Regions from separate parts of the Homo sapiens genome. Here region 2 is linked to region 1. The links come from fine-mapping of genetic effects on gene expression. A gene starts in region 1. The other region holds a variant in brackets. All regions are shown on one strand. Distances are from middle to middle.

The links. PIP is the estimated chance that this variant, and not a neighbour inherited with it, causes the effect.
Region 2: its variant is the best candidate, but not a certain one, in a credible set for the expression of NETO2 in whole blood (TOPMed, PIP 0.51).

The regions. Positions count from the first base shown.
Region 1 is chr16:47,142,490-47,145,509 of GRCh38, forward strand. NETO2 (neuropilin and tolloid like 2) reads right to left here and starts at 1,456. Exons shown (of 9, transcript NM_018092.5): 1 at 1,090-1,456. The coding sequence starts at 1,123. ITFG1-AS1 (ITFG1 antisense RNA 1) reads left to right here and starts at 1,579. Exons shown (of 4, transcript NR_110904.1): 1 at 1,579-2,005. RefSeq lists silencers at 437-586, 757-1,596, 1,657-1,986.
Region 2 is chr16:47,112,803-47,115,560 of GRCh38, forward strand. All of the region lies in intron 6 of NETO2 (neuropilin and tolloid like 2), which reads right to left. Among named protein-coding and RNA genes, the nearest start is that of NETO2, 30 kb to the right of the region's middle. The variant T/C (reference allele first, on the strand shown) is at 1,405.

The sequences.
Region 1 (3,020 bases):
AAAAGTCACTCTACAAATATTAAGATACAGTGCTGAGTTATACATAACACCGTTAATAATGCCTCAGCCGTACCCTCGAAATTTTTAAAAAAAGAACATGTTACGACATTACAAACACGTCAGCTTTCAATTTAAATCAGCAGGGGGAAAAAGGGAAGTCCTTTACTGAGTGGTGGTGCTGTTTTCCCTCTGGAAATTGAAAAGACGATTTATTCAGTCCGAGTTTCAGGAGCAACTTTGTATCCCAATCCTAATTATCTATGTATATAAATTTTCATCTAAATTACCACCTCCTGGGAAATGCAAAGCCGGTGGAGTAGGTTTTAGAGCTCTGTGCTCTGGACAAGCCAACTGTTTTAATTCCCAGTACAACAAATTAGTAAGAACCGAACACCAGCGGCGGGGAATTCTGAGACCTCTGGCGGAGCGCGAGGAGCGCCGCGTCCCGGGAAGCACCCGAGCAGCAGCGCTCCCCGGGGGCCGGGACAAGCCGGGTCCGCGGCGCCCGCGCGCCGCCCCCGGAGCCCGCAGTGGTGCCGCAGCCTCCGTGGCCGCAGCAGGTGGGACCCGGCTGGCCCAGCAGGCCCCGTTCCCCGCCGCGAGGTGCAGGCGCCGCGGGGCTATTCGAAAACCACTGCACGACGTCACGGCCGCGGCTTTTATTGTTCTCGTGGAATTACTTTTTGCCATCACATCTGGAGAAAGAGCGGCCTCCGCTCCACGACAGGAATCTCACAACTTTGCAAAGGGATGCGCGGAATTCTACGGAAGCGGCGCGAGGGCGCAGCCCGGAGGGCCCTGCTGGGCCCAGGGGCCTCCTGGCCGCCTTCCCGACCCGATCCCTCTTCCCACACGCGCCCCGCGAACGTCGGCCGGACTCGCAGGGGTCGGAAGCGGCGCGCCCGGAGAGCCGGCGGAGCCGGGCAGGGCTCGCGCCCCGCGGTCCGCTCCGAGTAGCCGCGAGCCCCGCCAGACAAAGAGGCGCGTCGGGTCCCGGGCGCGGGTAAGGGACGCAGAGGCGCGGGCAGGGCGGCGCGCCAGCCTCGGCCCGCAGGGGGCGCCGTCCGTGGCCCCAGCCCCGGTCCTTACCTTTGAGGACCGAGCAGAGCCGCTCCAGGGCCATGTTCCCGAGCTGCCCGGCGCTTCGCGAAGGGCTGAGGTAGCGGCGGCGGTGGCTCGGCGCTCACGGCTCGGCGCGGCGGCGACGGCCCCACTCCGTCCCCATCGCCGGCCAGCAGCTGCCTCCCCGCTCCCCTGAGGAGAGCTCAGGTCCTGCGGCCCGCCATGCCCGAGCCCCACAGTGGGCTCCCGCGCGGCCCGAGCACCCCGACGGGCGCCGCCTCCTGCTCCGCGGCGCCCCGTCCCATCGACCGCCCGAGGGCCGAGGAGTGCGGACGCGCGGCGCGGGACCGGCAGGCAGCTCCGCCCGCGGCCCCGGCGCGGGATCCACTGAAGTGGCGGGCGCGGGGCGCCCAGGCTCATTTAAGGAGGGAGCGCGAGCGCCGCGTGCCGGCTGCGCCGCCTGTGCGCATGTGCCCGCCCCGCCCCGCCCCGCGCCGCGCCTCGCGCGCCCGCCGCGGCCTCGCGCCGTGGGACGGCGTCGCTCCCCGCCGGCTGCCGTTAGGGCTGGGAGCCGGCTGGGCGCGGGGGTAGTGAGGGTGCCTCTCGCCGTGGCTGCGCGGCGGCCTCGTCCGAGAGGCCGGCGCCGGGGCAGTGACCGGCCCGTGCCCAGCCGCCGCGCAGGGCGCCCGGGGCAGCTGGCCGAGCCCTCGATGCCTCCCGTCTGACGGAGGCGCCCGGGAAGCGCCGCCCACCTCGGCCCCGCACCCTCGCCGGCCTGCCGGGTCTCCGCCAGCCCTAGCAGACAGAGAGGGGCGCCGGTCCCTAGTCCCCCAGACCTCCATTCAAGGTCAAAACTTTGCCCAGCTCAGCCTTGCTCGACCCTGGGCAGGGAAGCGCGGACATCGGCAGAGGGAGCCCGAGGCTCTCCGTGCCCTTCGCGCCGGTGAGTTCCCGACCCGCGGCGCTGCCGGCGTTTCCCTAGCGCCCGCCAGGTTGACAGGCACTTTAGTACCAACTCCTCAGACTCCCCCTCATGAAGTAGGTTTTAGGGGATTGGAAAGTCGAGGCCAGAGAGGTGAAGCCCTTCGTCCAGAGCCGCGTAGCGAATGAGCGGCAGGGCTGTGCACCTCCCCCGGGGCTGCCCTCCTAGCAGCTAACCACTACGCTGGGCAGCTTCGCCAGCTGATGGGAGTCTCCAGGTCTGCCAACAACTGCCTGGCTGTTGGTGGTATTCATGATCCTGCTTTATTTTCTCCACAGCGGTTATCACACTGATATGACCTTCCTCATTTATTTATTTGTTCATCCTTTATATCTCCCTCACCCTCACACCATTAAAATATCAGCTGCTTGCAGGCAGGCCGACTGCATTCATTTTTTTCACTCCACACATACGTATTGGGTGTTAATTATGTGCAGAAGACAATGATTGGTGCTGGAGATAACAACCGTGATCAAGGCCTTACCATAATAGAATATTTATGCCTGTCTCTGCGTGTAGTAGGAACTCTGTAAACGTTTGTCTAACCAATTGTAGCTAAAGACAATGTCAGGCAACTGAAACATTTTTCAGGTGTTAAGCTCTTCTCTCTCACTTTGTATTCCTTCAAGAAAGGTACAAAAGCATAAATAATTCATGAGATTTACAAAGGAAAAACATACTTAACACCAATTAATATCGAGGTGTTTCACCCTTTGCCATGTGCTGTGAATGGGGGCATAAAAGATGGGTAAGTTTGGGTTCCTAAAGGTAACCACCTACTACAGTTAAGATCGCACACGAGAACCAATTAGGAAATAAAACATTTAAGAACTTTTTCCCACGGATATGAAAAGGTGGCTCACGCATGTAATCCCAGAACTTTGGGAGGCTGAGGCAGGCGGGTCACCCGAGGTCAGAGGTTTAAGACCAGCCTGGCCGACATGGTGAAACCCCATCTCTACTAAAAATACAAAAA
Region 2 (2,758 bases), 30 kb before region 1:
AAAAATTTGTGAATATGGAATTATCTTTTCAAGGAATATTTCAATGAAGAATGAGATCTAATAAATATTGTTTAATTTCACTTAAAGCACACTTAATATTTTCATACTTACATATCTATAAAAATATGTTGTATTGTTCCATATATTTTAAAACCTCATACCAATTATAGAAATAAATCACTATGTATCCATTCTCCTATTGGGCATTTAGCTTGCTTCTACTTTTATAATTAGCTAATACTGCTGTAAACATTGTTGTCTTCTCTTTATGCACAGGTATGACGATTTCATTTGGGTATACATCTAGAAGTATACTTGTGTAGTAGCATGTGACCATTTTCAGCTTTACCAGAGCACATCCGAAATAGCTCTCCAAAGTGGTTGTACCAATTTATATACATTTTTCTCTTTACAGTTGAATTCTAACGAGACAATTTATACTTCTAAAGCAAATTCTTTGAGTCTGCTTGCTCTACTCAATCCACTACTCAGTCCTTGCTGACACTTCAAGAACAGTTCCACAACCCACTCAACTTCTCTTGTGCTGTCACTGTGCAGTCAAAATCCATCTCCAGTCTTCATCCCTGGTAAGCAATGATCTGTTCTTTGTCCTACAGTTCACTTTTTCCAGAATTTCATATAAATGAAATCACACAGCATGTATCCTTTGAGTCTAGCTCATTTTATTTAGCATGATGCATTTGGGGTTACTGCATGTAGCTGTAGTTTATCCCTTTTTATTGTTGAATAGATGTTACTATATGGATGTACCACAGTTTATTCTTTTTTTTTTTTTTTTTTTTTTGAGATGGAGTTTTTGCTCTTGTCGCCCAGGCTGGAGTGCAGTAGTGCAATCTTGGCTCACTGCAACCTCCGCCTCAAGGATTCAAGCAATTCTCCTGCCTCAGCCTCCCAAGTAGCTGGGATTACAGGCACCTGCCACCAGGCCCGGCTAATTTTTTGTATTTTCAGTAGAGACAGGGTTTCACCATGTTGGTCAAGCTACTCTTGAACTCCTGACCTCAAGTGATCCCCCCACCTCAGCCTCCCAAAGTGCTGGGATTATAGGCGTGAACCATCGCACCTGGCCTATTCTTTTAAAAGCTAAAGAACACTTGAAACATTTCTAGTTTTTGGTTATTACAGATAAAGTTGTTATGAACATTTACTTATAGGTTTTTTTCCATAAACATAAGCTTTCATTTCTCCCGGGTACCCATCCAGAAGAGACGGCTGAGTCACACAGTTACTTTATAGGAAACCACCAACCTGTTTCCCAGAGCGGCTCTATCATTTTGCACTCCTACCAGGACTGTATCAGAGTTTCAGCTGCTCTACATAGTTCCCAGCACTTAGTGATTTTTCTAAATTACAGTTATTCTAATGGAGAATAGTGCCATCTCA[T/C]TGTGGTTTTAATTTGCATTTTTGTAATGATTAAATCTTCTGTGGTGAAGTATCTGTTGAAATCTGTTTCATAATTGGGTTTTGTTCTTATTGTTGAGTTTTGAGTTCTGGATGAAAGAAATCTTTTCATAGGTGATTTTTTTTCTCCCAGTCAGTGGCTTTTTTTTTTTTTTCTCACTCAACAGTGTCTTTCACAGAGAAAAGCTTTTTCATTAGTCCAATTTATAAATTTCTTTTTTTTTTTTTTTTTTTTTTTTTTTTTGAGATGGAGTCTCGCTCTGTTGCCCAGGCTGGAGTGCAGTGGCATGATCTCGGCTCACTGCAAGCTCCGCCTCCCGGGTTCATGCCAGTCTCCTGCCTCAGCCTCCTGAGTAGCTGGGACTACAGGCCCCCGCCACCATGCCCAACTAATTTTTTGTATTTTTAGTAGAGACGGGGTTTTACCGTGTTAGCCAGGATGGCCTCGATTTCCCGACCTCGAGATCCGCCCGCCTCAGCCTCCCAAAGTGCTGGGATTACAGATGTGAGCCACCGCGCCCAGCCTGAATTTTTCTTTTATGGATACTCTTTCGGTGTTGCATCTAAGAACTCTTTGTCTAACCCAGTAAGATTCTTTTCATATATTCTCCTCTAAATGTTTTATAATTTTACATCTATGTCCATGATTTATTTTGAGTTAATTTTTAAATACAGTGTTGGATGTAGGTGAGGCAACACCTACACTCAACAGGTGAGGGTTCATTTTTTTTTTCTTTGAATATGGAGGTTCAATTGTTCCAGCACCATCTGTTAGACTATCCTTTCTCCACTCAATTTCCTTTGAATGTCAAAAAAATTAACAAATCATATTTGCAGAAATCTAATCTCTGGACTATCTTGTTCCATTGATCTGTGTGTCTGTCCTTTGTCAGTACCACAGTCTTGGTTACTGAAGCTTCACATTAAGTCTTGAAATCAGGTCATGAGTCTTCCATGTTTGTTCTTTTTCAGAATAATTTTGGCTTCTGTAATCCCTTGCTTTTCCATTACATTCTAGAATCAGTTTGTCAATCTTTACAAAAAATATAGCTGTGATTTTGATTGAAATTGTATTCATCTGTGTAGATCATTTTCATAAGAACTGACATTTTAGCACTACTGGGCCTATCAATACATTGACACAGTATATTTACTTAGGTCATCTCTGAATATTTTCATTATGGTCTTTTAAGTTTTCAGTTAACAGATACTACACAGTTTTTTTTGGTGGAGTAATATTTTAAATGGTACTGTTTTCTTAATTTTGAACTACAGTTTTCATTGCTAGTATATAAAAATTCAACTGATTTTTTTTTTTCTTGAGACAGGGTCTCAG